4 linked regions of the Homo sapiens genome follow. The protein of the gene in region 2 binds, or shares a complex with, the protein of the main gene of each other region. Each region holds a gene or a part of one and is shown on either strand. Other genes may lie near its edges. The genes, in order: IK, PRPF38A, ZMAT2 and SF3B3.

The links.
Region 1: PRPF38A (region 2) and IK share a complex: the UniProt entries of both Homo sapiens proteins name them as parts of the spliceosome B complex.
Region 3: PRPF38A (region 2) and ZMAT2 share a complex: the UniProt entries of both Homo sapiens proteins name them as parts of the spliceosome B complex.
Region 4: PRPF38A (region 2) and SF3B3 share a complex: the UniProt entries of both Homo sapiens proteins name them as parts of the spliceosome B complex.

The regions. Positions count from the first base shown.
Region 1 is NC_000005.10:140,643,651-140,650,832, reverse strand, and holds the start of IK (protein Red), read right to left. Parts: upstream 3,005-7,182; 5' UTR 2,925-3,004; coding exon 2,909-2,924; exon of another isoform or gene 2,907-2,908; intron 2,363-2,906; coding exon 2,296-2,362; intron 1-2,295. Other genes in the region: NDUFA2 (NADH dehydrogenase [ubiquinone] 1 alpha subcomplex subunit 2), read left to right, coding at 3,250-3,350, 3,471-3,577, 5,155-5,246; TMCO6 (transmembrane and coiled-coil domain-containing protein 6), read right to left, coding at 5,735-5,848, 6,093-6,260, 6,639-6,733, 6,867-7,053, 7,158-7,182. UniProt on the Homo sapiens protein: Involved in pre-mRNA splicing as a component of the spliceosome. Auxiliary spliceosomal protein that regulates selection of alternative splice sites in a small set of target pre-mRNA species. Required for normal mitotic cell cycle progression.
Region 2 is NC_000001.11:52,400,065-52,407,622, reverse strand, and holds the start of PRPF38A (pre-mRNA-splicing factor 38A), read right to left. Parts: upstream 3,022-7,558; 5' UTR 2,874-3,021; coding exon 2,744-2,873; intron 1,944-2,743; coding exon 1,784-1,943; intron 1-1,783. Other genes in the region: ORC1 (origin recognition complex subunit 1), read left to right, coding at 5,400-5,494, 6,134-6,261. UniProt on the Homo sapiens protein: Involved in pre-mRNA splicing as a component of the spliceosome.
Region 3 is NC_000005.10:140,695,857-140,703,449, reverse strand, and holds the start of ZMAT2 (zinc finger matrin-type protein 2), read right to left. Parts: upstream 3,004-7,593; 5' UTR 2,990-3,003; coding exon 2,972-2,989; intron 2,632-2,971; coding exon 2,538-2,631; intron 1,445-2,537; coding exon 1,321-1,444; intron 1-1,320. Other genes in the region: HARS2 (histidine--tRNA ligase, mitochondrial isoform 4 precursor), read right to left, coding at 4,898-4,957, 5,372-5,518, 5,765-5,881, 6,044-6,286, 6,380-6,507, 6,836-6,929, 7,249-7,347. UniProt on the Homo sapiens protein: Involved in pre-mRNA splicing as a component of the spliceosome.
Region 4 is NC_000016.10:70,561,812-70,568,832, reverse strand, and holds part of SF3B3 (splicing factor 3B subunit 3), read right to left. Parts: intron 4,958-7,021; coding exon 4,783-4,957; intron 3,769-4,782; coding exon 3,563-3,768; intron 3,466-3,562; coding exon 3,309-3,465; intron 1,423-3,308; coding exon 1,297-1,422; intron 551-1,296; coding exon 338-550; intron 1-337. UniProt on the Homo sapiens protein: Component of the 17S U2 SnRNP complex of the spliceosome, a large ribonucleoprotein complex that removes introns from transcribed pre-mRNAs.

The sequences.
Region 1 (7,182 bases), on a different chromosome or scaffold from region 2:
CTGACGCAGGCGGATCACCCGAGGTCAGGAGTTCAAGACCAGCATGGCCAACATGGTGATATCCCATCTCTACTAAAAATACAAAAAAATTAGCTGGGCGTTGTGGTGGGCGCCTGTAATCCTAGCTACTCAGGAGGCTGAGGCAGGAAAATCGCTTGAACCTGGGAGGCGGAGTTTGCAGTGAGCCGAGATCTAGGTATTACACTCCAGCCTGGGCAAAAAGAGCAAGACTCTGTCTCAAAAAAATAAAAAAAAGAAAAGAATCAGTCTGAAACAGACTAAGCGTTTATTAGCTGGAGACTGACTAAACTATGATGGTGTTTCCCAAAGAGGGAAAGACAGCACTAATGGTACAAGAGATTATTTTAATTGGTACACTAACAAAGACTCCTCTCTTGATCAAATTAAAGTCAGACTCCTTTAAAGCTCTCTTCTGACTAGGGCTCTTCCTTGGCCTGCTGACCTCAGTTTTAAAAAGGAATCCTAAGTCAGTTCACAGAAAGTTTTCCCACTCTTGATATCCAATCCAACTTGATATCTAATCAAGTTCCTCTTCTCCCCAAGGAAGACTTTATTGAAGACTACTGTAACAAGAGTCAAGACCATTGTAATAGAGTAGAGAGACTGAACTTAATTCCGAATACAACAGGGACAAGTGAGAATTTATAGAAAATTACTAAAAGCAACTTGGTTAGGTATGGGGGTGGAGCGGTGGTTGATTTCTTTGTTAAAACTGTGCTCAGCAGGCCACGGATGAGTCCTGCTGAAAAATGGGACTCTTTGGGGAACCTGACTAAAGTTTAGCCAAGGAGGGAATGCTTGTCACTGCTCTGAAAGATAATCTCAGAAACACTGAGCAGGGTTTAAAAAGAAGCAAGTTGCAAAAATGATATATACAGCATAATATCATTTAACTCAAATATTTTAAATCACAAAGCAATGTTGTGTTTTCCTCAGATATGCATGTATGTGTATAAATGCATTTAAAAAAGAGTAGGAGGGCCAGGCGCAGTGGCTCACGCCTGTAATCCCAGCACTTTGGGCCGCCGAGACGGGCAGATCATTTGAGGTCAGGAGTTCAAGACCAGCCTGGCCAACATAGCGAAACCCTGTCTCTACTAATACAAAAATTAGCCAAGCATGGTGGGGCATGCCTGTAATCCCAGCTACTGGGGAAACTGAGGCAGAAGAATTGCTTGAGCCCAGGAGGCAAAGGTTGCTGTGAGCAGAAATAATGCCATTGAACTCCAGCCTGGGCAACGGGAGGAAAAGATATGCCAAAAAAGGTAACTGTGGTTACTTCTAAGAAAAGGACTGAGGCTGGGCACGGTGGCTCACGCCTGTAATGCCAGCACTTTAGGAGGCTGAGGCGGGTGGATCACTTCAGGCCAGGAGTTCAAGACCAGCCTGACGAACACAGTGAAACCCTGTCTCTACTAAAAATACAAAAAAAAAAATCAGTCGTGCATGGTGGCACATGCCTGTAGTCCCAGCTACTTGGGAGGCTGAGGCAGGAGAACCGCTTGAACTCAGGAGGCAGAGGTTGCAGTGAGCCAAGATTGCATCACTGCACTCCAGCCTGGGTAACAGTGAGACTCCGTCTCAAAAAAAAAAAAAAAGAAAGAAAAGAAAAGAAAAGAAAAAAAAAAAGAAATGGACTGGAATTGGGGATGTTATCAAAGATGATTTTATCGGGGGCCAGGCACGGTGGCTCACGCCTGTACTCCCACCACTTTGGGAGGCAGAGGCGGGTGGATCACCTGAAGTCGGGATTTCAAGACCAGCCTGATCAACATGGAGAAACCCCATCTCTACTAAAAATACAAAATTAGCCGGGCGTAGTGGAACATGCCTGTAATCCCAGCTACTCGGAAGGCTGAGGCAGGAGAATTGCTTGAACCCGGGAGGCGGAGGTTGTGGTGAGCCGAGATCGCACCACTGCATTCCAGCCTGAGCAACAAGAGCGAAACTCAGTCTCAAAAAAAATAAAAAGATGATTTTACCCTTATTTCCTATGTTTTAATTTGCTATTGGAAGAAGTAATTCCTATATAATGTGTAATTACACAACACGTATAAAAAAAAAAAAAAACTTAACACCTTTCCTGCAGGAATTTCCCTTCTAATACCCTTATGCACTTGGCCTGATCCAGTTAAGGCTCACAGAGATAAAGGGCCAGCGGGTATAATTTTTTACCATCCTTGATGACAAGACATTCAGAATTCTTTCACCATCACCACCACTTTTCTATTCATTGCCCAACTCATTTCCATGGTCCTAGCACAAAATACTCACTGGTGGAAGGAGTGAGGATCATCCACATCGTGGCCATCGGGGGCCAAAGGGTTGGAGAACGGCTCACCTGACAAAAAAAATTGACGTTAATTTAATCAGTCTCTTACGTGTCAGATCCTATGCAAAAATTTGAGATATAGTAGTGAACAATACAGAACAAAAGTTAGAACAGCGACAGTGTCAACACAATGTAATAAGTGCTGAAATAGGAAACTACAAGAAGCTGTGGGAGCACAAAGCAGAGGACCCTAATCCTGCGCTGGAGGATCAGAGAAGACTTCCGGAAGATCACGTCTAAAATACTACGTAAAAGATAAATACGCGCAACCCAGGATTAAGTATGGGGACAGGACTGGGGGAAAGCGATCCACGCACAAAAGCCGCCCATCATCACTTGGAGTAGGAGTGAGGACTGGGGACGGAGTTTGGAGCTGTCGGCCTCACTTAGGACCCTGTGGCTTCTCCGGGCTCAAGCGTCACACATACATACATACACACACACACACACACACACACACACACACACACACCCGGCTTAAGCTCAGAAGCTACAATAATGCGCCAAGTGCCCCAAGTGCCATGGGGAAGAAATAACGGATGGCCTGAGCCTTACTATCTCGCTCCGGCATTTTGTTATCGTTCTTTCGCTGTCACCAACAATCGAGTCTCCAACAGCAACACCGCAGCGACAAGCTCTTTCCCACAGTGCACCTCAGAATCAACCCACACTGCTTTGCGTTCGCAGCCTTTCCGCTTCCTGTTTTTCCCTCCGACCAACCCCGAGCGCAAAGAAATTGACCTCGCAGCGGTCCTACAATACTTTTATATCATTGGCCAAGCTTTACCCCGCCCCTGCCTCATGCAGCCTATGGGCTAGGCTTTAGGGTCCGCGGTTGGTCAGACCGGAGCACTTGGCCTGAAGACCTGGAATTGGCGACTTCGATATTAACAAGGATGGCGGCGGCCGCAGCAAGTCGAGGAGTCGGGGCAAAGCTGGGCCTGCGTGAGATTCGCATCCACTTATGTCAGCGCTCGCCCGGCAGCCAGGGCGTCAGGTGAGGCGCGGCGTGGTGAGGCGGGCGGGCTTCGGGACGCCAGGGTCACGACCTCGACCTCCCTGAAGTTGAGGGAAGCCCCCGCCCACAGCACGCGCGGCGCTCTCTCCGGCCCCGCAGGGACTTCATTGAGAAACGCTACGTGGAGCTGAAGAAGGCGAATCCCGACCTACCCATCCTAATCCGCGAATGCTCCGATGTGCAGCCCAAGCTCTGGGCCCGCTACGGTGAGTGCGGGACGCCAGGGGTCTGGGGCTCCGGTAGGGGAACAAGGGTTTGAGAAGAGAAGGGACCGCCCAAGGTCGTGCAGAAACCCGTGGAGAAACTAGAACTCGGACTTTAGCCTTGCTGTTGATCTTGTTTCCATGAAGAAATTTATATTCGCAGGGTTATATGATGCGTTGTATTCCGGGCAACATAAGTATGCAGGCTGACCGAATCCTGCGTAGGGACCAGGAGCTGACGTTTTTGTAGTTAAGAATGGGCTTCAGACAGGAGAGAAGTTAGTCAATATAGTTTCTCCAAATAACGTGTAGCCAGTGTCAGTCCAGGTAGTGTGTGAGAATCTCAGTAATTTTGCACATAGAGCTGGGCCCTGTGCTGAGTGCTTCCCTGCCTAACTCATTTAATCTTCATTAGTTAGGAGGAAGCGTGTTCTTCTTTTCTCACTGTAGAGATTAGAAAACGGAATCAAAACTTTGTTTTGCACTATTGTTAAACTCTAGCTGCAACTTTAGATGCAGCTAGAGTTTAACAGGATTGAGCCTTTACATTTATTCCCCTTCCTAGAATGCACTTACCCCTCTAAGACTGGCATGGCAATGTATTGCAAAATGAAATTTTCCTATCATGTTGCCTAACACATTGTAGGTATGCAATAAATGTTTATACATACTGAATAACAGGATTTTAATCACAGCTTTTAACTATATGGTGCCCTGGGAATGACGGGAGGAGGTGGAGGAGAGTGACCACCTTAAGCAGATTGGTTCTCAGAGTAGATATCTGTGAGACACAGTAGACATTAGACATGCACTAATAATTGGAGAAGGAAAAAAGCTTCTCCTTCCAAAAGCCAGTAGACTACAGGAGGAGATAGACACGAGTAACTTTAGTGTATTGTGCTGGGTATTATGTTAGATAGCCTATGGGAGCCTAGAGAATGGGTACCCAGCTGGGTGCGGTGGTTCACGCCTGTAATCCCAGCACTTTGGGAGGCTGAAGCAGGTGGATCACCTGAGGTCAGGAGTTCAAGACCAGCCTGGCCAACATGGTAAAACCCCGTCTCTACTAAACATACAAAAATTAGCCGGGTGTGGTGGCGGGCACCTGTAATCCCAGCTACTCAGGAGGCTGAGGCAGGAGAATTGCTTGAACCCAGGAGGTGGAGGTTGCAGTGAGTGGAGATCGTGCCACCACACTCCAGCCTGGGTGACAGAGCGAGACTCCGTCTCAAAAAAAAAAAAAAAAAAAGAGAGAGAATGGGCTCCCAGCTGAGGCTGGACCCATGCAATACATTGCTCACCGTAGTTAATAATAAATGCCTACAGTGCCCCCGAAAGCTTCCCTGAAACAACCCATTGCGGCCATCCAGAATCAGCCAAAATTCTATTTGGACTTGGGCTTCCTAGATGTGTTTGAGACCTATTGTATTAATTCTAGGCATACCAAATGTATTTTGATCATATCTCTTTAATACTCTTCCTGTCTTAACAAGACTAAGATAAAGACAAAGATCTTTTATTTTACTTTGGTAGCCTCCAGGGTGCAGAATAGTTAAAGACACCTCCCTCTCTCTCTTCAGCATTTGGCCAAGAGACGAATGTCCCTTTGAACAACTTCAGTGCTGATCAGGTAACCAGAGCCCTGGAGAACGTTCTAAGTGGTAAAGCCTGAAGCCTCCACTGAGGATTAAGAGCAACAGCCCCAGAGCCTGGGCTCTGCTGGACTTAGTATAATGTGAAAAAAATGTGTTCTCCTATTCCTCATAAAGCTTGTGCTGTAAAATACTTTCTCAGGGTGTTCTTGTCCTCATCTACCCTCTACCCCTTACTGTGCAACCACTGAGGCAAAGTAGCTTAATATAAAAATAAAACTTTATTCTGTCTCATCAAAAGCTACCAGCTGCTGAAGCAAACATGAAGGGTGGCGGGGGGGCAGGGATTCTAGGGCCCCAGAGTAAGTAGACCACACTGAGTCCCTTTTGGTCCTCCTGCCTGGATAGTGCTGAGTGGAAGGGGAGGAGCTGGGACCCAAAGGTCTTGGCTTAGGTGTGGGAGCAGAGAACATGAGACCTCATTATGGTCCTAAATCTCCAAAGGCTCTACTGGACAAACAAGCTTGATGTTAAGAGAGAGGGGAATGAGTGACATTGAGAAACAAGATCACCCTTGAAGAGCTGTCTGCTGGAGAGCATACACACGATCCTGGAGCTGGGCCTCTTCCTGATGCCTTTCCAGGGCTTGCAGCCCTGACTGCTGCAGGAAGACCTGAACAGCCTAGGGGCAGGGAAGAAAATTCAACACACCTGGTCTCTGTGTCCTAAGACTCAATTCCCACAGCCTCATGGGTCAGCCTACTCCAGAGGGTGCATTCCCCAACAAGAGGATGAAGTTTCTGACATGGAACCTATATAGGTTAGCCAGGCCCAGAGAAACAACTATAGTTAGGACTGGATGGGAAGGGAGCCACTGTGTGGCTTCAGAACAGGGGTGACTGAGGATGTGGGCCAGAAACCTATACCTCTGGCTGATACAGGAACAGCAGATGCAGCAGCTCCAAACTCTGGCCTACTACTTCAGTGTCAGAAAAGGCTAGTGTGTGCAGCAAGGCGGGAAGCAGGGGCCCTGGCCACAGCCGCTGGCAGTAAGCAGGACCCTTTTCTGCAACATTGCACAGAACTGTGAGCACCTGCAGATAGACACATATATAGTCTACAAAGAATGAAACACAAAGATCATAACAATAGCTAAAATATATGACATGGTGACCACATGCCCAGGCACCATGCCAAGCTCTTCTACATACATGTTCTCATACTCCTACAACTACCCTATGATGCAAGATTATCCTCAGTTATAAGTGAGGAGACTGAAGCTTAAGGTGGTTAGTTGATTTGTCCAAGGATAAATAATCCAGTTTAAGGGACACACACCTAGATTGGTTGGGCCCTGAGGCCACACACCACCACCTGCTGGCTCTCAACTAAGGGTACATCTGAGGGCTCAGGACTGCTGTCCCATACAATCCGACTACCAGATCTTGGATTCAAGTAACCCCAATACATACCATTACGCTCACCACGTTAGATACTGGCAACAGCTGTAAGAGAGGCTCAATCAGATCCAGGGAGAGCAAGGAGGTACAGAAACTAGGACTGTTTGCTGGAAGAGAAGTACCAGGGTGAAAAACTGCTTTCCCCCACCACCCCTGTCAATACTACCCACCTCAGCCTAGGCCATGAGGAAATATCCCCATTATCCAAATGTCCAGGCCTGGGCAGATTATGGTGCGTACCAGTGAGGTTGTTGAGGAGCCAAAGGCCCTCAGGGAGCAGACTGGGCTGTTTCTGGAAAAAGAACTGCAGAAGGATAAATAAGGCTGCCACAACACGCTCATCTCTGAGCTGCATTTGCCCTCCCACAGTCTCCACTGCTGCCTCAGTTAGCAGGTTGCTTAGACATCGAAGCACGGGGCATGCCAGCTGCAAAGACAAATTGGGGGGTCAGGTGTAAGAAGGAAGAGGTTACCTGCATTCCAGAGTATCAAGAAACATCTCCCAGAATTTCACCTGACATCTTCACCTACCAGCTCCAGTCCTGCATCCTCGGTT
Region 2 (7,558 bases):
AACAGAAAGAAGATATATTTAATAACAATACAAGAACAAGTACACATAAACATGACTGCTGGTTTTGGAAAAAAGTAAGTCATCTGGGTTCAAATTCTGACTCCGTAATTTACTAAGTCTGTGACACTACTGGTCAAATCATGTGTTTTCTCAATCCTTGTAAAACGGAGATAATGCTACCTAATTTATGGCTTGGTATATAAACAAGAAATGCATTGAAAGTGCTAAGTATAGCACAGAGCACACAGTAAGTGCCTAACAAAAGTTAGGTATTTTCTAGCTGTTAATGCTTTATTAGAGTCGTTCCAGCCAGGGGCGGTGGCTCACGCCTCTAATCCCAGCACTTTGGGAGGCGAGGCAGGTGGGTCACCGGGTCAGGAGATCGGGACCATCCTGGCTAACGCGGTGAAATGCCGTCTCTAGTAAAAATACAAAAAATTAGCCGGGTGTAGTGGTGGGCGCCTGTAGTCCCAGCTACTTGGGAGGCTGAGGCAGGAGAATGGCATGAACCCAGGAGGCCGAGCTTGCAGTGAGCCGAGACTGCGCCACTGCACTCCAGCCTGGGCAACAGAGCGAGACTCTGTCTCAAACAAAAAAAAGAGTTGTTCCTCTTCCCTTTTTCCTATATCTAACTACTTAAATTTCCTCTTGGGTAACTAGGAGGCTTTTGAAAGTCATAGTTTCTTTGTACGAGAAGCAGAATACTGTAGCAAAGAATATGAACTCTGAAGCCAGATTTGCCACTTACTAGCTGTTTGAACTTGGGCAAAATTAATTAATCTCTGTGCCTCAGTTTCCTCTCCTGTAGAATAGGGATTAAAAGTTTAGAAGGTTGTTGTGAAAGTGAAATGAATTATTATATGCAAAGCCCTTACAGCATGGCACATAAGAAGCTATTATGTCTGTCTCCTATACTTGTTTGTGATTTCCTCGAGAATCGGTAATACGGTAATAAGCTGACATTTTCTAGGTGTTTACCATGCAGCAAGTGCTGTGTTCAGAGATCTGCATGCATTACGTTCTTTCACTCTTATATTATAGTCACCATTTTACAGATAAGCAAAGTTTAGAAAATTAAGTAACCTCTCCAATGTCATAGTTAATGGGCAACAGAATCTGGATGTGAACCCAGATCTTACACCTCTTAACCACCACCTTTTGTTGTTTGATTTTCACCCCTGAGCGTCCAGTGCCTACCAACATATCAGGCACTCACTTTTGCTTAATATGTATTTAGTGAATCTGTGAAATCCTTTTTCAGGGAAAAATTACCAAAACTGAGAAAGTAAAGTAGAAGATTAATACAATCAGAACAGATAAAATACAAACTTGGCAGGGTGTGGTGGCTCATGCCTGTAATCCCAGCACTCTGGGAGGCCCGGGGGGGGAGGGGATTACCTGAAGTCTGGAGTTCGAGACCAGCCTGGCCAACATGGTGAAACCCCATCTCTACTAAAAATACAAAAATTAGCCAGGCGTGATGGCACATGCCTGTAATCCCAGCTACTCGGGAGGCTGAGACAGGAGAATCACTTGAACCCAGGAAATGGGGGTTGCAGTGGGCCGAGATCGCACCACTGCACTCCAGCCTGGGCAACACAGAGAGACTCTGTTTCCAAAACAAAAAACAAACAAAAAATACAAACTCAAGGGCTCAAAAGCAAAAATCTGGAGTGGAACTCTCTAGAAATGAGATACATTGTGTACACCCCTCTTAACCAAAGCCCAATTCTAAACCGCCAAAATTAAACCTCTTATATTAGCTAGTGAACATTGCACTCACTTGAAATCTTCATTTTTGATAAACTCTACAATGATATCCTTCTCGGGTTGAATTTGAAGCATCTTCAAGGTTAAACACAGAAAGGGTGTTGGTTTTATGTTGCCACCATAGACGCCACCCACAAACCTTAACTCCATGGCTTTATCGACTACAAGTTCAGCTAAAAAACAAAAACAATACAGTAACATATTAGGGCTAAGCTCTTCCTAGTTGGAGTGGAGTTAGTTCAAGCTTTGGTTCTCCTAAATATACATCAACAGTGTAATATTAGGAGAACGAATGTGTATTAATAACAGTAACGACAACAGCTAATATACATTGAGAATGGATAATAAAATAGGTACCCTGCTAAGCTTTTCATATTATCTCACTTAACCTTTTTTAACAAGTCATGAAGAAAGTTCTAGCAATGTTCTTATTTCCAGGTAAGGAAAATGAGGGCTAAGAAAGGTAAAGTGACTTGCTCAAGGTCCACAGATTGTCACAGGACATGGATTTAAAGCCACAATTCAAATCGGAAGATTACCTGGAAGACTTCTCTGAAGCACTGATATTTATAAATACTGGAACCGGCCCAGATCTAAGAATAGTAAGATCATGAATTTGGTTTCAGGCATATTAACGTTAGGTCCTTAAAGACCTTCAACAGATTGTGTCAAAGTGTTATATCCGGATCCCTGAGCTTAACACTGTTGCAACCCAGCCTGCTATCATTAAATACGGAATAACTCACAACACCCAACTGAGACAGCCTTCAGAATATGACCTTACCAGATTCATCTGTGCCTCTAATACTCAACACAAGACGAGGCACTTAGCAGGCACTCAAAATTTTTCTGAATGATCGACATACTCCGTTCCAGTACCACCCCCAGAGGCCAGTCGCTAGTCCTACCCGCGCTCGGTCAGGAGAAATGGGCCACAAGGGGGCTGAGAGGCGCTCCGCGCGCTTCCACTTACCTGTAAGTCCAAAGCACTCCTCTTTCCAGTACTTGGACTCATAGATTCGCGTTCGAATGATCTTCTCCACCAGATATTGAGGGTTGGTGCCATGGATGCTGTGCGCATCCTTCACTGTACGGTTAGCCATTTTAGAATGCCTTCAATTCTATTTCCGTCGGATCCTTTAATGCCTCACATCCAGGTTCAGAAAAAGCACCTAGAGGAATGGAGAAAGGTGGAAGAAGTTTCACTAAACAGCTTAGGCGACCATCTTGAAGCCGGAAACACCGTAGTGTAAAGGGCTTCCGCTCCCCGCGTCGCCTATCGAATCAATGATGGCGGCTGCATGTTAGCGGATGTACGTCATGCGCCCCTCTTAGGTGTACGGAGTGGGCGGGGCGAGCTAGTTGGTGTCGCAACGAAGGGACGGTCTGGGGGCGGGGCCACGCCGATTGGCGCGAAGTTTTCTTTTCTCCTTCCACCTTCTTTTCATTTCTAGTGAGACACACGCTTTGGTCCTGGCTTTCGGCCCGTAGTTGTAGAAGGAGCCCTGCTGGTGCAGGTTAGAGGTGCCGCATCCCCCGGAGCTCTCGAAGTGGAGGCGGTAGGAAACGGAGGGCTTGCGGCTAGCCGGAGGAAGCTTTGGAGCCGGGTGAGTGTGGCGTCCAGCGGGCTGCGAGGGACTCGGGGGAGGGCGCATCGGAACCTCTGAAACTGAGGACGTTCTCTGTAGACTCAGTCATTGATTCTTTTAGCTGACATGTACCAAGCGCCTGTTCAGTGCCAGGCACTGTTCTGAACTGTTAAGAGCGTTCCTCTGTTCCACACTCCGATTCCTAAAAGGCTTCCCGCGCTGCAGGGAACTGAGTTTGCAGGGGGGAAGGCGGAAGCCAACAGCCTAGAAGCAGGAGCATTCCTGCCCTCCGCACCCTGATGCTCAGTGATGACTTTCCCTCCATCTGCATTTGTAAAGCACTCTACTTGTTTCGTTCTTTGAGCTATAGTGTAGGAACCACTACAGGGAAGGCGGAGCAGAGGTTATTACCCCATTTTACGGACGTAAATTGCGCCCAGGGAGGGACGTGTCTTAGGTCGCTTTTCGTGACTAAGCAGTCTGGGCTCCTACCCAGATCTTTTTTTCAGATGAGCTCCTAACTGCTGGGCTGTCTGTCATTCACCTTCTTTTCAGAAGAGAAGTCTGGTGGCCCCCTTCCTACTTCTCTTTTCTAACCCCGGAATTGAAGAGTCTTCTGCTGTGACAGTTGGAAAAGGCATTCTTATCCTGATCTATTTGTGAAACTGCAATGATTATATACGATTCTAGTTGTCTGTAACACATGAATAATAGTACCCTCGTCTCTGCTGTGTTAGGTGGGCTGGAAATGCCAAAGGAGTTTCCAATATGACAGAATGGTTTAAGTCCCTTTGCAACAGTTTTTAACTTTAATGGAGGGCAATATGTGGACTTTAGGAGGTTTGTGAATCTGCCGAAATTGAATGCAAAATTTTGCTTGAATTATGTTAGTTCCATAGTATTCATCAAATGATACTTAATAAATAAAACCACTGTACCTTACAAATAAATGCAAGGGATTAAGGTAGTGGGAAAGTGGATTTACCATTTTGCATTTTTTCACTTAATCTTCCATTATCCTAAAATAGTGCCTGGCACACGATGGGTACTTAATAAATATTGGTTGAATAAACGGAAGATTCTATTTTCTCCATTTTGTGGGTAAGCAAATTGAGGCCCAATCCACAATGTTCAGTCAGTGGCTGGGAAGCCTGATTTATTGTAATAAGTACACCAAAAGCAAGCTCTCAGTTACATATTAACATTATCCAGTTTCACACAGTGTGTTGTAAGGTGAAGTAGTTAAGAGCACAGTAATTGCAGTCTGGCTTTTCCGGGTTTGAGTTAAGGCTGTGCCATCCTGTATAAGATAGGATAAGTTATCACCTTGAAGTGATAATAACATCTACTTTTCTTTTTTTTATTTTGAGACAGAGTTCTGCTCTGTCACCCAGACTAGAGTGCAGTGTTGCGATCTCGGCTCACTGCAGCCTCCACCTCCCGGGTTCAAGTGATTTGCCTGCCACCATGCCCACCTGATTTTTGTATTTTTAGTAGAGACGGGGTTTCACCATGTTGGCCAGGCTGGTCCCGAACTCCTGACCTCAGGTGATCCACCCACCTCAGCCTCTCAAAATGCTGGGATTACAGGCGTGAGCCACTGCGCCCAGCCTTTGTATTTCTGTTTTATCCTTGTGTGCATTTTATAAGCGTCATGAAGACATTTACAACCCCTGTATCACTGTCTTTTAATTTCACTTTGTTAGATGTTTTACACCTATTGTTCTGCCTTATTCCTAGTATTTCTAAATGTTACAGTTTCATTTCTTAGGAATTGACCTTTCTGTTTTCCTGGATGGAAAGAGATACGGCATAGTACAAGATGGACACAGATGATACTAAATTGCCTGTGTGTAATCTTCGTAGACCATGACTTCAAATAAAATGTTTTCTTAGTCTAAAATGTATGGGAGTGTAGCAGGGGCAGAAAATAAGTCTGATCTCATTTGAAGGGAGGGACTGACTATGTCTTAGAATCCATCAGATAAATACCAAATATTTATCATGGTAACTCAGAGTTTGGACTCTTCCACAGAAGCCATGGCACACTACCCCACAAGGCTGAAGACCAGAAAAACTTATTCATGGGTTGGCAGGCCCTTGTTGGATCGAAAACTGCACTACCAAACCTATAGGTGAGTGATGGGGTCCTTTGGTTGTCCTGGAAATACAGCTTCTCAAGCTAAACAGTCAACTTGTATCTAGCCTGTTCTAATTACTACAGATTGACCATGAATGAACAGGAGATTAGAACTGATTGTAAGGAGGGTTTTGTTTGATGCAAGAAGATGGTGGGATAAATATAGCAGTTAGTGATGGAGCAAAATTATGGCAGGCTCATAAAATTTTGTATGTAGGATAATGTCATGTCTATTTAAGGTGAGTTCTATATAACTTTTGATGAAAACGAGATGATAGATGTTTTTACTATGTCTTTCCCAGCCCTGGAGATCTCTGACAATTTGACATTGTTACTGGGCAGCTTGACAGCCTTGGGAAACATTTGTTGTGGGAAGCATTTGTTGTTCTTTGTCAATAACTGAGAGGAATTAGGGTTCCTAATAAGACCTTTGGATTCATTACTCAGCTAAAACAATTCATTCAACCCATTTTGCCTATTCTTAAATATAACTGGGCGAATTGGTTTCCCAGTAGGAGAGTTGGTCAGCAGAAAGAAATCAGGATTGGAGAGCCCTCTCCTTTGTGCCCAGGGGATCTGAAGAGCTTGACCCACTTTAAGTTATTTCCTAATGTGCTTCTCTGTTACTTCCTAGAGAAATGTGTGTGAAAACAGAAGGTTGTTCCACCGAGATTCACATCCAGATTGGACAGTTTGTGTTGATTGAAGGGGATGATGATGAAAACCCGTATGTTGCTAAATTGCTTGAGTTGTTCGAAGATGGTGAGTTTGGGACTGGAATAATAAACCATTCCTTGTCATGAATGATTGGGAGGTGGGGAGATTGTGGATTCTTTTGTTCACAGCAGTGTGCAGGGCACATTAGACTGAGGTGGGATCACGTAAGAACTAGCTGCGTCTTCTTCCATCTAAAAAATTTCTTTACTCACCAAAGCAGTATTGAGTAAAACGGAACTGGAAGGCTCAATAATTTAACTTTTTCATTATTTTGGGGAGTAAGCAAGGCTATTAAGGCAGAATTGGGGGGGATGGAGAGAATGGATGAATTTGGGGGAAAGGGAGAAGGAAAAAACAGGTAATTTGTACTATCATAGAGATGTGTCCTTTAGTTTTGGCATGAAGGTTAGTAATATATTTTGCAAGTGCTACTTCGTTACAAGTGAAGAGGTAAGTTGGATTTGGAAGGTGTAGCAATTGGGGTTTCAGTCAGGGAAAACAAAAACACTTAAGATATTTTACCCAGAGGAACTTGTGTGTTAATGTTGGAAAGGCTAGAAGAAAAGGTGACATTTACCAGAGATGAGTAAGTGCAGGAAGCCACGGCTGCCCCTAGGCTGGAGGAACAAAAGGGAAGGTGGCATCAACCAGAGCCTACAAGCCCACATCGAAAGCCTTAGCTGATTTGCTGACCTTCTAACCCTCTGCAAAACAAGAGGAGAGCACAGAAATGTGGGAGTGGGGCACAGCTCCACAAGGAGGATTAGGAAGATAGCAATTTGAAACTATCTAAAACTGCCTCGTTCAAGAGACAGAAGAAGGGCATGGTCATTAGGTAATCCTGTGGTAGTCTGTATGCCCAAGAGAAGGAACTGATAGACTGAGTGGATAAAGATGTTTTATATTACTATAGTCCCCCTTATCCGTGGTTTCACCTTCTGCGATTTCAGTTACCTGACAACAACCATAGTCCAAAAATATTAAATGGAAAATTACAGAAAAAAACAAGTCATAAGCTTTAAATTGTGTGCCATTGTGAGTAATGTGGTGAAATCTCACGCTGTCCCACCTGAAATGTGAGTCATCCCTTTGTCCAGTGTATCCGTGCTGTACAGTATGTGTGTGTAGGAAAAATCATAGCATATACAGGGTTAGTGGCAGCATCTGCAGGTTCAAGCATCTACTGGTCTTGGCGCGTACCCTCAGCAGATAAGGGGAGAGTACTGCACATAGATAAGGAGGATTTTGGACATACTTTCTCTTTGACATACTTAGAAGTATGGAGAAAAACCTCATCAAACTAATGTCCAGTAGAGGCAGCACATCAGAATCATGGGCTTCG
Region 3 (7,593 bases), on a different chromosome or scaffold from region 2:
CTAGCCTGACCAACACGGAGAAACCCCGTCTCTACTAAAAATACAAAAAAATCAGGTGGTGCATGCCTGTAATCCCAGCTACTTGGGAGGCTGAGGCAGGAGAATCGCTTGAACCCAGGAGGCGAGGCTGTGGTGAGCCGAGATCATACCATTGCATTTCATCCTGGGCAAGAAGAGTGAAACTCTGTCTCAGAAAAAAAAAAAAAAAGAAAAGAAAAAAGAAAAAGAAAAAAGAAAGGTCTATGGGGCAAAGAACTTAGGCTTCCAAACCACAGGCATGTGAGAGAGCTTGGAAGCAGATCTTCCAGCCCCACTTAAGATTCATATGAATGCAGACCTACCTTGCCAACTCCTTGATTGCAGCTTCATGAAGACCCTGAGCCAGAACCACCTAGGTAAGCCACTCCCAGATTCCTTACCCAAAGAAACTGTGAGTGGTGTAGTTTATGCTGCTAAGCTTTAGGTTAATTTGTTAATTTACATAACAATAGATAACTAATACAGACAGGAATGGACAACAGTGGGTTTACTAAGCAGCTCAGAGAAGTGTCACTCATTGCTATCTGTGTTGCTCTCCTGCCAGAAAACCTAACTGGACAGAGAAGCAGTGGGGGGCAAAAGGGTGACAAGCTCTTGTAGGACCCTTCTTCCTATAGGTTATAGTCTTGGAAGAAGGTGTACAATCAGGCATCCATAACAACTACAGCCTTTGCAGCTAGTCTGGAACCTCAAACCCCTCTTCTTCACCATTAACAACTCCTAGGCTCTATTCTAGCTCCACCTAATTTCTCTCCTAGAAATCTCCTCAGTAGTCCTTTCCTTCATTTCTTCTTCTGACAGATCAAATAATCCCTTTTAAAATATTAATAGTAAATCAGAATTGATAACAAGTACAATGGCAATAAAAAATTTAAAAACTATATTGAGTAGTAGCTGTAGTGCTCATAGTATGATTTTTGTTTGTTTTGGTTTTTTTAATTGAGACAGGGTCTCACTGTGTTACCCAGGCTGGTCTTGAATTCCTGGGCTCAAGCAATCCTCCTGCCTTGGCCTCCCAAAGTGCTGGGAATACAGGCGTGAGCCACTGTGCCCAGCCAATGCTAATAACATGAAGAAACCCACTGAGTGACCACTCCTAGAGACACTATCATGTCAACTTGAGACCTTGGGAGACACAGAAAAACAAATATAAAGATAGAATTACAGGCAAGAAGGACGTAATCCTGGGGCCAAGGACCTTCCTTAACACTTCCTAAAACCAAAATAGGTGGCTTATTAGATGCATTCTTGGCTGCAGAGGAAAAATGATAAGCAACTCACCCTCCCATCTCAGATTGAGGGGTTGTCTTGGTAATGACAATTGTCTTCCCAAGCTTGGATTCCAAGTCCACCTTGTAGTCCCTATGCCGTAAAAGCTCTCGCTTGACAGGCTGCACTGGTTTTCCTGAAACATAATGGGGAAGGAAGTCCCTTCAATATTATAGTTCCTCAACCAGAAAGGAAAAAAAATGCATGAAATCCAAAATTCAGGTCTTACTCATTTCAAAATCATTCCTGAAAGGACACAACAGACACTTAAAGTAGCAGCTGGGGAGAATCTCAACACAGGAAGAAATCATAAGCAATCCTCAACTCTACAGCTTTTCTCCACTTTAAAGCCAGCAAATCTAAAAACAGTATGTTTTATATTCATTGATTAACTGAATTGTGGGGGAGAATTTCTGAAGAATTACTAGAAGCAACTTTTTCAAAACGGGAGCAAGGACATTCAAGAATGCTTTCAGGCAGATACCCTAGGCATAACGGAAAGGAACCTTCTGAGAGCTGGGCAAATTTATAAAAGGGGACCAACATCTAGGAAATGCCTGTTACATGTCAAGCACTATTTATTTTACATGTTACATAAAAAATGAAAGAGTTAGTGAGTGCAAGGTGGCCTGGAGGTAAAGGGAAAGAAGAATGTACACGTTTGAAACAGATGACAAAATAAAACATTTCTTTATGCAATCTCTTAAACAGGAGAGAAGCACCAACTCCCTGATGTACAAGGCACAGAGAAACAGCACTACTAAGCTCTAGCTGAAACAATCACAGATCCTGCAAAGTTCCCCGGCTTTTCTCAGACTATATGGGAGGGTCTTGATTGGGCCAGGAATGTTCTCTCCCTTAAGAAATTTCAAGGGAAAGAGGGGGGTCACTGATAGCGGTAATGCACAGCAGCAAAATACTCTACTTAACTTCTCTGTCACTACTAAGGATGCCGTTATCTTCTCTGTACTTCAGGAAAGCATTAAACGAGCCAAGCAAAGGGTGGGCAAGGAAGCAGAGTGAAATAGAGCTGAAGAGCATCTCAAAACTACTTACTTCATCCCACCTCCTCGCTCTCATTTTGTAAATGCAGAAACCTAGGCCCAGGGAAGCAGCACTCTGCCAGAGCTTACACCGCGTGGGAAGGCAGCGCACTTCAACTCCCACCCGCTCTCCATCATCGCATCGCCTCTGTGATACCCTTAGCCCTTGATGTAGTTAGCACCCACCATCTTTCTTTTCTCTCTCTTCCGTGAGCCTCTTCTCGGCGAGTTTCTCATATTCATCTTTGTCCCACTTTCGGCGAAAGTCCAAGTTTTTTGTCTGTGGGGAGGAAAAAGCGTCAAGATCCGTCGCCGTGTCTGGGCCCCTAGAGAAGCAGGGAACCGCGCCCTCGCGGTCCAGGTGTCTACAGGACGTTTTGAAAGCAAAGCCTCTTTGGACTGTACGAGAAGACTGAGGTAGCCTCAAGACCCCAACCCGAGAAACCTCCGCGATTCTACTGACCCTCTGCCAAGGCCTATTACTGGGGAGTTCTTGAACCTGAACCCTGGGATCTCGAGGAGATATCGGGAAGCCAGTCGGGTGCAGGAGTTTGTCTCTATTCAGGTCTGAAAAACCATTCCCCACCCCGCAAAACCTCCTCCTCAGACACAACACCTACCCCGCTGCCCGACGCCATCTTCACAGCGAAGTGAATGGCGAGCTGAAAAACGCCGTAAAAAGCGGCTTGGAGCCGTAAGGCAAGATAGCCCTCCAATAAGCTTGGAGTCTTGTGTTCTAAACGAGCTAAGGACTGGAGGGTTTCTAAAACAGGCTTGTTGGCCCCGCCTCTGCTCCAAGGAGACAGCGCAGGCGCAAGAGGAGTATGAAGCAACACGGAAGTAAGGGCGCTTGCAATTGTTTTTTGCCTTGGATTTCAAAACAAGCATTAAAGGGTCAAGATTTAGTTCAACTATTTTACAAACAAGGAAACTGAGGTTCGCAAAACAGTGGTCTCTGATCTAGTCTAGCAACTTTGCGTCCACTGCCAAGAATTTCTAAACCTTTTTTAAGGCCGAAGCGCCATTAGGGGGTCTAGATGCCTCTCATTCACCTGCATGCACTAGGGATATGACCCTAAACTACACTGAAACGTTTGCAACAGAGGCACCCTTCCCGACGCACATATAAAAAGCATGTTTTGCACTTGGGCTCTTTTCCTTGAAGCAATGCTACCACCCTTTGGTTCACTTATTTTTCCATCATCTGGGGAACTTTATAGTAGAACATAATTTAATCAGCATAATTGGATTTGGAAAGGCCAGTCATCAACAACACTCTAGAGTGAAGCACTGTGGCATACCGGCTCACTATATGTTGATTTTTAGCAACAAAACTACCTCTTGGCCGGGCACAGTGGCTCATGCCTGTAATCCCAGCACTTTGGGAGGCTGAGGTGGGTGGATTATGAGGTCAGGAGTTTGAGACCAGCCTGGCCAAGATGGTGAAACCCTGTCTCTACTAAAAATACAAAAATTAGCTGGCTACTCGGGAGGCTGAAGCAGGAGAATCTCTTGAACCTGAGAGGCGGAGGTTGCAGTGAGCCGAGATCACGCCACTGCACTCTAGCCTGGGTGACAGAGCAAGACTCCGTCTAAAAACAAACAAACAAAAAAACTACCTCTTGAGGAGACAGGGAAAGAGGGAGAAACTGTGGCTGCTCATCACTGAATACAGAAGCATCATCCCAGGGAGGTTACTTCTACCTCACAGAATTCTCCAATGTACACTCAAGCATTTTCTATGGTCTATGCAAACAAAGCCCTTGATAACAATAACAAATTACCCAAACTACTACACTTAATATTTTATTTAACATGTTATCCAACCACTTCTAAAACAGCCTCCATGGCACGGTATGGAATAGAGCAGTGATTCTGGCACAGGAAATGGTCTCCAAAATCTCAAAATATCAGATCTCTACCTTGTCAAGTCATCTATTAAGTTCAATGTTCAAGATTATCAAGCATACAGCCCCACTCTTCTACTGTAAGCAATGGATGGGCTAGAGAGATGTCAAATCAACATGGGTACTGCCATGCCCTTAGGATAGCATCTGTCCTCAAAGCTGAAAGCAGCCATTGCCCCTCTTTGCTGTCTTCCAAAAACTCCCCAGACAGGCCAATGGCTGATTGTGGACAAATTCACCAGAATCTGGTTCCGTAGCTACAGTAGAAGGCTAAGTATCTGGTTTCTGATCTCAATGGTTCAGAATCCTGAGCCTGAGGTGACTCTCCCAGAGCCTTGCTCACAGCAACAATCTCACTACCTCTTGACAACGTTCCGTGGCACTTCAAATTTGCCTCTGCAGCTAGAGCATGTCTCTTTCACATCCAGCCATCTGCACCCATGCAGAATAGCTGCTCACACTAGCCCAGGAGTCCTCAGGGTCTTCTACAGTTCTGCACCCAGGAAGAATGGAGGAGGCAGAAGGTACTTGTCACCCTTCCTGGCTAGTTGTTGTGAAGTCCATCACTCAATTCCAGAGGAATTCAGTTCTAGAGGAAACCTTTTCTACAAAGAGCAGCAGATGGGAATCAGGCAAGGATCAAGACTCAGACAGTCGCTTCTGAATTTCAGCCACAAAATTTTCCCGTTTAATGGCCACCTGAAACATAAGAGAATCCTCATGTGATAAACTAGAAAGTGATACTAACTCCTTAGCCACTGTTTTTCCAGATTTGTTTTACTCTGCATCTTCTCCCATTACTTATACAACCAGAAAGGAGTAGTGTGGGTTGACCTGAAGAATGTATACCCTCAAGATGAAAGGGATTCAAACACCTGATCTATGTCTATTATGTTGATTAGTCTCAAAATACCCATTCGGATTTCATTTGTCTTTCTTCTGGCCACCCAGTCAATACTCACAGGCAGCAATGGTCATCTTGAGTGAGTGTTTGTTCATCTCTACCACTATTAACCATGAAGATAATTTCTCAGCCAGAAGATGCATATTTCTTACAGAATCTGGGAAAGGCAGAAATACTTCGTCCCTTCTATTTCTGCTGCCGCCACTCACCTCCTCTCTGCTGGCCACTGAACGGATCTTGATGACCCCTTCTTTCAGTTCTTGCTCACCAATAATGACCACCAGTGGAATGCCTGTGCTCTCACAATAGTGCAGCTGGGTTAATAGTTTGGGGTTGTTCTTGTATAGCATCTCTGCCTGAAAAGGATCAAGACAGAGTAAGGGACTTAGAAGTGAACACAGCAACAAACCTCAGGAACATGGATATCCAAGAAAGCCAGAGATAAGTGGCTAGTCCGCCTACCCTAAAAAGCCAATCTAGTAGCCAGTAGTAGCTAGCAGACTAAAAAGGTTTTGAGTTCCACCCCAGACATAAGATAGATATAGCCCTGGGTCCTAAATTCCACACATACCCAGATGGCTCAGATATCAGCTCCACCATACCTTGATTCCAGAATCCCAAAGCTCTGCAATAAGCTTCAACCGTTCTTGGAGAAAGTTCTTCTGTGGTGTGGCCACAAACACTTGAGTCTCTGTAGTCCGCACCTTCTCACCTTTGGTCTAATAAGAGAGAAGAAAGTAAAACTAATAAAAACCTCCTTTCCACCAGCAATTCCAAAAATCAAGACAAAAAGAATCATCAGAAAACCACTCCAACTACACCTCCAGAAACAGGAGGGTTTTTAGGTCTCCAGCCCCACCTCACACCTATCTAGGACCTACCTTCATCCTCTGCTCCACAATGTAGAAGATTCGCTCAACCCCAATGCTGAGTCCCACACATGGCACCTTGTGGCCCTTGGGGTCAAACATGCCCACCAGCCCATCATAGCGCCCACCAGCAGCCACACTGCCCACATTCAGGGGCTCCTCCCCAGCCTGAGTTGGGGTCTGCAGCAGCACTGCTTCATAGATCACTCCTGTATAGTAGTCTAGGCCCCGAGCCAGGCTGAGGTCAAAGGAGATCTGTGGGGACAAGATTACAGTCAGTCCCAAACTAGACTCGGGACCCTGAGAGCCCTAGAGCTCAGCAGGAGGTCCATTTGCAATTCAGCTTACCTTATCAGCAATTCCAAATAAAGTCAGGTATTCAAATAGCAGCTTTAGGTCTCCCAGGCCCTCCAGGGCCTGCTTGTTCTGGGATAGTCTGGGATCCTGAAACATTTGCTCTACTAGGGATACCCCACCTGGAGAGAAATAAAGTCTCTGCTGTTCACTCACATGTGTTTCATTCAAAATTATCCCTAATGTGCTCTAGCTAGTCTTCCTCATTTTCTTTAAAAAAAAAAAAAAAAAAAAAAGATCCCAGTCTCACATGACAAGACCCTCCTCCTTTGCCTCTAGCTTTGCCATCTGAAGACACAAAGTCGTTACAATAAGTAAAAGAGAAATTAAATTCAGGACAGGCCCTGGAGCTTAGCATATCTACAGAAAAGAGTTGTTTCAGAGGTAGAATTTGAGCACATGTCACCTTCAGCCTGGTTCTATCACAGCTCTGAAAACCCTGGTTCTTACCATGACACTGGACATAGTCCCCAATTCGATCAGCCACCTCAGGAGCCAGGCCTTTCTTCACCACCATCTCATGTCTCACATCTTTCCAAGCCATCTGCATAAACACCCAAACATTAGCCCAGCCCCAAGATCTTTCTTTCTCAAACTGAAAAAGGACAACTCAACTTCCATTCAGTATATACATCACAAGTAGCTAACTGTATACTCAGCAAAGTCAGAGACAGCTTAAGAAATCCAGTCACAATCCCCACTGTATAGCATGACTCAGATCTTCCTTCAGAGTATGCCTCCTTACCTTCCACCCCAAAATAGCCCACTTCCAGCCACAATCTCCTTATTTTTCACTAGTGGTATGGATTTGAGGGCAGGGCAGAAGCTAGATAGGGTCTACTGAAGTATGTCTTCTTTGTTACCTTGTCTAGTTTATCTATGGAGGAGCAGATGGCACGGAACTTGCTTTCAGGAACACCACAGACAGCAAACATCCCATCCACAATCCGCCGGTCATTTACCTGAGAACTCAATGTCAGTGACCCAAGTGCTTGTCAATGCCCTTCCACTCAAAACAATGGCAGTACCTACTTTCCTGACACACAAAAAGGATGGAAATTTCACAGGAAGAGTACAGACATATAGGAAATACAACAGCTTTACTAGGAAAGTCCTACAGTTGCAGGCTTAAGGGTTGGAGTCACCCAAGTTTGGGACTTGCATAAACAGTATTAGGCCAAATCCAGACTTCTCCCACAGTTCTCAGC
Region 4 (7,021 bases), on a different chromosome or scaffold from region 2:
TTAACACAGCTAAGGGTAAAACCAAAACCACACAACATAGATAACAGACATTCCAAAGTTCTTATAAAATGTAAAAAGAAATATTAGCCATTAGCTCAAACTAAACCTATCATTAAATCACGTTCAATAGGGAGGAGGGAGATAAACCACAGAGAAAAATCCAAAAGACTAGTAAGAAGGCTTAAAGAACAGATTGCTTGTAGAGTTAGCTTTAGTAGGATGGAATTTTATATCCATTTTTACTTCTCAGATTTGATTCCTCCTTGGCTTTACCCACAAGAAACTGAGCCAGCTTTCCTACACATCACTGTAACCCAAGTTAACAACATCAACTCACCACACATATGTTGCCAAACTTGTCTGCCCCAGCCACAGTGTCATAGTCCAGGAGGCTGGCTGTAGTGACCCATCGGGGGTAGGTATCATCAGCAAAGATGATAAGCTGGTTTTCATTACGCTTGTAGCGAACCCAGATGAAACTTTCTTGGACATCAGATACAATTACCCTATGTCCGATAGTCTGGATCCCAGAGATATAATTGGCAATATGCTGGGAAAAACAAAGACAATAGTGATGGTGGGTGTAATCTTGGGGTTCAGAACCCAAAGAAAGCCCAGCTTTCCGTATGACATACGTAGGGTCAGCAGAACAGCAAATACCAAAAACCAGCAGTTAGCAATGAATTCTAGGTGGGAAAAAAGAGCCAAATAGCTTTTAATATAGTGCAAATATATGCCTAACTCTCACATTTACTTTCCTTATAGAAGCTAGCAAGATAGAAAGCTGGTTCTTGTTTGGTAAGTCAAGAAATGAGATCCCTCTACTCCTGCTCCTCTCAAAACTCAAGGGCCGGTGCGGTGGCTCACGCCTGTAAACCCAGGACTTTGGGAGGCTAAGGCGGGTAGATCATGAGATCAGGAGTTAAGAGACTAGCCTGGCCAACATGGTAAAACCCTGTCTCTACTAAAGATACAAAAAATTTGCCAGGCGTGGTGGCGCGCATCTGTAATCCCAGCTACTTGGGAGGCTGAGGCAGGAGAATCGCTTGAACCCAGGAGGCGGAGGTTGCAGTGAGCCGAGATTGCGCCACTGCACTCCAGCCTGGGCAACAGGGCGAGACTCCGTCTCAAAAACCAAAAAACAAAAAAACAAGGGCATAATTCTGAAGCTGGAATTGGGGTAACACAACAAGTCCTAATAAAGATAAGATTTTAAAACTCAATGCCCACCACCCCACCAATGCCCCCACCCTTGACACATGAGCTAGATCTCAGCACCAATGCCAGCACACTTACCTTATTCTCACATTTTCGGAGTAACTTCTTCTTTCCCAGGTCATAGACACGCAACAGCTTCCCCACACCAATCAACACCCTCCCCTGGAATGGGGCAATAGCAGCAGGGACCTCTTCCACAGGAGTCTATAGAGGAAAAGCAGGTAATACAGCTATTATAAATGCCAGCCAGACACAGGCCTCACCTCTCTGCCCAGAAATGCCTACTTCCACAGGAGCCTATCATTAAGAAACACACCAGTGAGCTTATTTTGCTAATGAATCTGGGTGTTGGGGTGAACAAGTTCCGCATGCTGCATTCACTCAGTAGAGGGATCAATGCTGTAACTGACAAGAAGTTCTGGTACCAGACGACTGCTGTCCAGAGCTTGTGCTCTGTTTAACTGGTGTTATTTCAACAGTGAAGCCTTAGTAGCCAAGTGACTGTAATTTGTGGAGGGACAGGAAAGAAATGCTAGTGAAAAGTGACTTTTTTTTTTTTTTTTGAGACAGGGTCTCACTACTGCTCAGGCTGAAGGGCTGTGGCAGGCGCAATCATGGCTCACTATAGCCTGGACTTCCTGGGCTCAGGTGATCCTCCCACCTCAGACTCCCGAGTAGCTGGGACTACAGGCATGTGCCATCAAGCCTGACTAATTATCTGTATTTTTCGTAGAAACTGAGTTTCACCACATTGCCCAGGCTGGTCTCAAACTCTTGGGCTCAAGTGACCTGCTCGACTCAGACTCCCAAAATGCTGGGATTACAAGCGTGAGCCACTGCACCCAGCCTAGTGACATCTCAGTTGTAAAGGAGAGACAAATTTAATATGCAAAAGGGTCTATGAAGTATTTCTTAGAGGATACTCCCCTTATGGTAGGGTTGAAGGAATCCACATGCTGTCATTGTGGAGAAGAGAATATTCTTTTTATTTTAAAAATTATGGTAAAATAGTCATAACATAAAGTTTACCATCTTAATCCTTTTCTTTTTTTTGAGACAGAGTCTCGCTCTGTCACCCACGCTGGAGTGCAGTGGCGCAATCTCGGCTCACTGCAACCTCTGCCTCCTGGGTTCAAGTGATTCTCCTGCCTTAGCCTCTGGAATAGCTAGGGTTACAGGCGCCCACCACCATGCTTGGCTGATTTTTTATTTTTAATAGAGATGGGATTTCACCACGTTGACCAGACTGGTTTTGAACTCCTGAGCTCAGGTGACCCGCCCACCTCGGCCTTCCAAAGTGCTGGGATTACAGGCGTGAGACACCATGCCCAGCCAGTCATTTTTAAGTATACACTTCAGTGGCATTAAGCACATTTACTGTTGTGTAACTATCACCTCCAGAATTTTTTTCATCTTCCCAAACTGAAACTCTGTACCCATTAAACAGTAACTTCCCAGAGAATGCAGGTGGAAAAGAATATTAAATCTTTTTTTTTTTTTTGACAGTCTCACTCTTGTCACCCAGGCTAGAGTGCAATGGCGCAATCTCGGCTCACTGCAACCTCCGCCTCCCGGGTTCAAGCGATTCTCCTGTCTTAGCCTCCCGAGCAGCTGGGATTACAGGTGCGTGCCGCCATGCCTGGCTGATTTTTGTATTTTTAGTAGAGACAGGCTTTCACCATGTTGGCCGGGCTGGTCTCGAACTCCTGACCTCAGGTGATCTGCCTGCCTCGGCCTCCCAAAGTGCTGGGATTACAGGCATGAGCCACTGCGCCCAGCCAGAATATTAATTATTTAAACTGCTGAATTTTGGTCACAAATTGTTGCCTGCTTATTAAAACAGTAAGAAAGAGACCAATTGAATGTGCATCTATCTCCCCATTATGGATGGTTAGCACAAAGCCTTCCTGTGGAATGCACAGGCACAAGAACATCACTGCAGCTAGAAGGCCCCAGCATTTTCCATGTGCTGGTAAGAGAGAGATTGGAATCAAGGAGCTGGTCCCCAAAAGACCTGATCCATAACATAAGCAAAAGTGAGAGAATTCAATGGGACTTAAAATCTAGGAGAACCACTGGCAGATTCCTACCTTGTGCAAAAACTCCAGTTTTTCCCCATTGTTCACAAGCTTGTAAGTATAGACGAAGCCCCCTGCCACAGATCGGGGGTTTAGTATCAGGTCCTTGGCCACACCCACCAGCACATACCAGTCTTCACCAGTGTTGGAAAACCTGCACACAGCCACACTACACACAGAATAAGAAGCAAGAGTAAGGCCTTAGTCAAAACTCAGAGAGCTCCTGTTCCAGCCTGCCAAACCCTGGACTGTCCTGGGCTGCTTACCTAAAAGCTGCCTCATTCTGTTCCAGCTGGACAAGGTCCAGTGTGTTCCCTTGAATGGGATTCATCACTCGGATCACAGAGGCCCACTGCCCATTGCCAGCCTTGGGAGCTCCAAAGATGGATTCAGGGAGGTTTTCATTGAGGAATGCTGCTGCCATCTCTGCGGCCAGCTCCCGCTCATCCTCCCCTGCTGCTTCCACCATTTCCTAAACCCAAAAAAACGAGTAACTGAGTTGGCGTGCTCAGAGGTAGGGGCTGGCTGAGAAGAGGATAGGTAGCAAGAACACTCCAGGGGGTTCTCAATACATAAAGCAGCAAAGTCAGCCATCCCAGCCAGGATTTCCCGACATGACTATTAAAGGGAGAGGTGTACAGACTAGGGAAGACAGAAGATCAGAAAGGGAAATCCAGACATTGCTGGTTACATATTAGTAGAAAACACCAAAAATAACAATAGCTGTGACAAATATTGGACTAGTGGCTTGAGAAAAATGACAACGGAAACTCCACTTTTCTATCCAACCCATCTGATTTCCCTTACTAAAACTACTCTGTCTCCACTCTTTAAGGATGGATACAGTTCTACGTGGTTGTAGCTATTTGGTTTCTGCTAGGCAATGAGTTCTAGAAAGAGCTGGTGTTGTGGAGAACATGAAAGCTGTCTCTTTTGGGCCCAAATAAAGGAAATACAGTCTATTTTGGAAGCTCAAGGACGGGAGAATTCTGTTTCAGAGAGGGAACTTAATTGTGAATAAATGGAGGTCAGAGTATAGTCCTGGGTTACAAGAAAGGCTCTAAAATGAAGTACTTTGGGGCAAAGGCCTCTGCTTAAAAAAGCTGAAAAAAGCCTAGATCTTTAAAAACAAAGAATATACTAACAATTACAGGAGTTTAAACTTTTGATAGAGTCTCGTGTCCAGAGTGCCACTGGTATGCAGTGGCATGATCATGGCTCACTGCAGTCTTGAACTCCTGGGCTCAAGTGATCCTCCTGCCTCAGCCTCCCAAGTAGCTGGGACTACAGGAGTGCACCAACACACCAGGCTATCTTTTAAAATTTTTAATAGAGGTGCAGTTTTGCTATGTTGCCCAGGCTGGTCTCGAACTAGTGGCCTCAAGCAATCCTCCCACCTCAGCCTCCCAAAGTGCCGGGCAGTTTAAACTTTTCAACATAATTTCACACATCTTTTAATAGAACCCCTGAACGTTAGTCTCATTACCTCTGCCATCTGCTGCTTTCTCTGAGCTTTCGTGGCCTCAGTGTAGGCATTGTGGTCCGTTTCAATGATAATAAGGTTGTTACTCTCAGGGTGGATGACAAATTTCCTGGGTGTGTACTGCAGTGGGAAGGCTACTTGATTGAAGACAGCACCGAGCTTCTCTAATGCCAAAATCCTATGACAAAAAAGCAAGGCAGTTATTTAATACTCACTCGGACCCAGAAACTGGTGTTGAAATAGACTTTGAGCAGTCAGCAAACACGTCAATCCCTGGAGCTCTAACGTTGGCATTAGGCAACATTAAACAACAGCCTCCTACTCTAGAAAACTCTGCGATGCAGACACAGAGATCCAGGAAGGGCCTTCCCATTTGGCAACACCCTACCACAATTCACAGCAGTTCTAGTTCCTACCAATGAAACACAAACGATTGTCAAAAGTTTTTTTTTAATCACTCCAATGATAATAAAGAGCCCAATCCCAAATTTGTTGTGAAACACTGCAATTACCTAAACATATATGGTATTTGTAGTGACTGTGCTTCATAAAATAAAGTGGATACCTTTGTGAACAAAAATCACCTCAGTTCAGGAAAACTATGACAATGCAAGAGACAGCAAATAAGGGACCTACAAATTTCTGTCAAATGGGACAGAGATGTACACATAAGCCAAACTATGTGCAAAATGAGCAGAACCCAGGTACTCTGAAAAGTATAGTTACCCGATCTCTAATGATGGAGTTTTATTTGTAGTTTATTCTCTACATTAAAAAAGATAGGGGCTGCGTGTGGTGGCTCACGCCTGTAATCTCAGCACTTTGGGAGGCCAAAGCAGGCAGATCACCTAAGGCTAGGAGTTCAAGACAAGCCTGGGTAACATGGTGAAACACCAACTCTGTTGAAAATACCAAAAAAAAAGCCATGTATGGTGGCGCACGCCTGTAGTCCCAGCTACTTGGGAGGCTGAGGTGGGAGAATCTCTTGAGCCCAGGAGCTCAAGACCAGCCTGGGCACCAAGGTGAAATCCTGTCTCTATAAAATAGAACACAAAAATTAGCCAGGCATGATGGCATGCGCCTACAGTCCCACCAGGTACTTGGGAGGTTGAGGCAGAAATAGCTTGAGCCCAGGAAGTTGGGGCTGCAGTGAGCCATGATCACACCACTGCACTCCAACCTGTACAACAGAGTAAGACCTTGTCTCAAAAAAAAAACTTAAAAATAAAAATAATTAAATAAAAAAATAAACTGCCTGCCAAGAACTCTGCTTTTATGTCTCATAAGTCACCTTCCCTGATTTAGTTTTGGGGGGAAGTAAGTTCTGCTGCTAGGAAAGCCTAAAAATCTGTAGCGATTGTCTAAATCTATAGCAATTCAGGAGGTAGGGGCCACAGATGAGGCTACAACAAGGCTGGCTTAAAAGACAAGGGGAACACTGACAGGCAGGTATGTATGTGGGTGAAGCATTCTAGCACAGGTAGAGATTAAAAAAATATTAAGTGATGTAGAGCAGTGCAGGGAGATCAATTCTGCTGGAGCAGAAGATAAATACAAAGATGACGGAAAGAAAAAGGACAATGACCATGAAAAGACCCTGAAAGTTGTTGCAAAGAAATTTTGGGAGCTCATTTGATAAGCAATAGTGATTAATCTATCAAGAGGCCATAGTTTCATTATGAACAGCCAATAGTTATAACCAGGATGTGAACAACTTTGGTGGCTTAATTTTAAAAGCCCCCCAAAACCTGAGGAAGCCAAACTGACTGAATTATTTTAGGTTCTTTTCCATCTTGCAAAGAATATTACATACAGTGCTCAAACTTCACATCAATATTACCAGGAAGAACAGTTTTGTCAACTTGAAAAAGGTCTAAATAACTTATAGATAGGTTAACATTTAAGATTTAATACCGCAAATGACAAGACAGAGTAAGAAAGGTTATCAATGCAGTGATCCAATACTTGCTCTAAAACTAATCCAATGGCAATACCCTTTTGCTAGAAAACAAAAATCTGAAATCTCAGGAAGATTGGACTGTATTAAAGCTTGGCCTTGAAAATCTTAACAGAAGCTAAAACACCGAAACTTGGCTCTCAGGTACTAAAATGCTGAGCCAAATGAAGGTTTCAATTGCAACACACAAGCTTCATGGTGAAGTCGGCTCTCTGCCACCTCTTCACAGCCTCCTCCAACACTCTGGCAGAACCAGTCTGAGCCCTTGGCAGAAAGGCTTCCTGC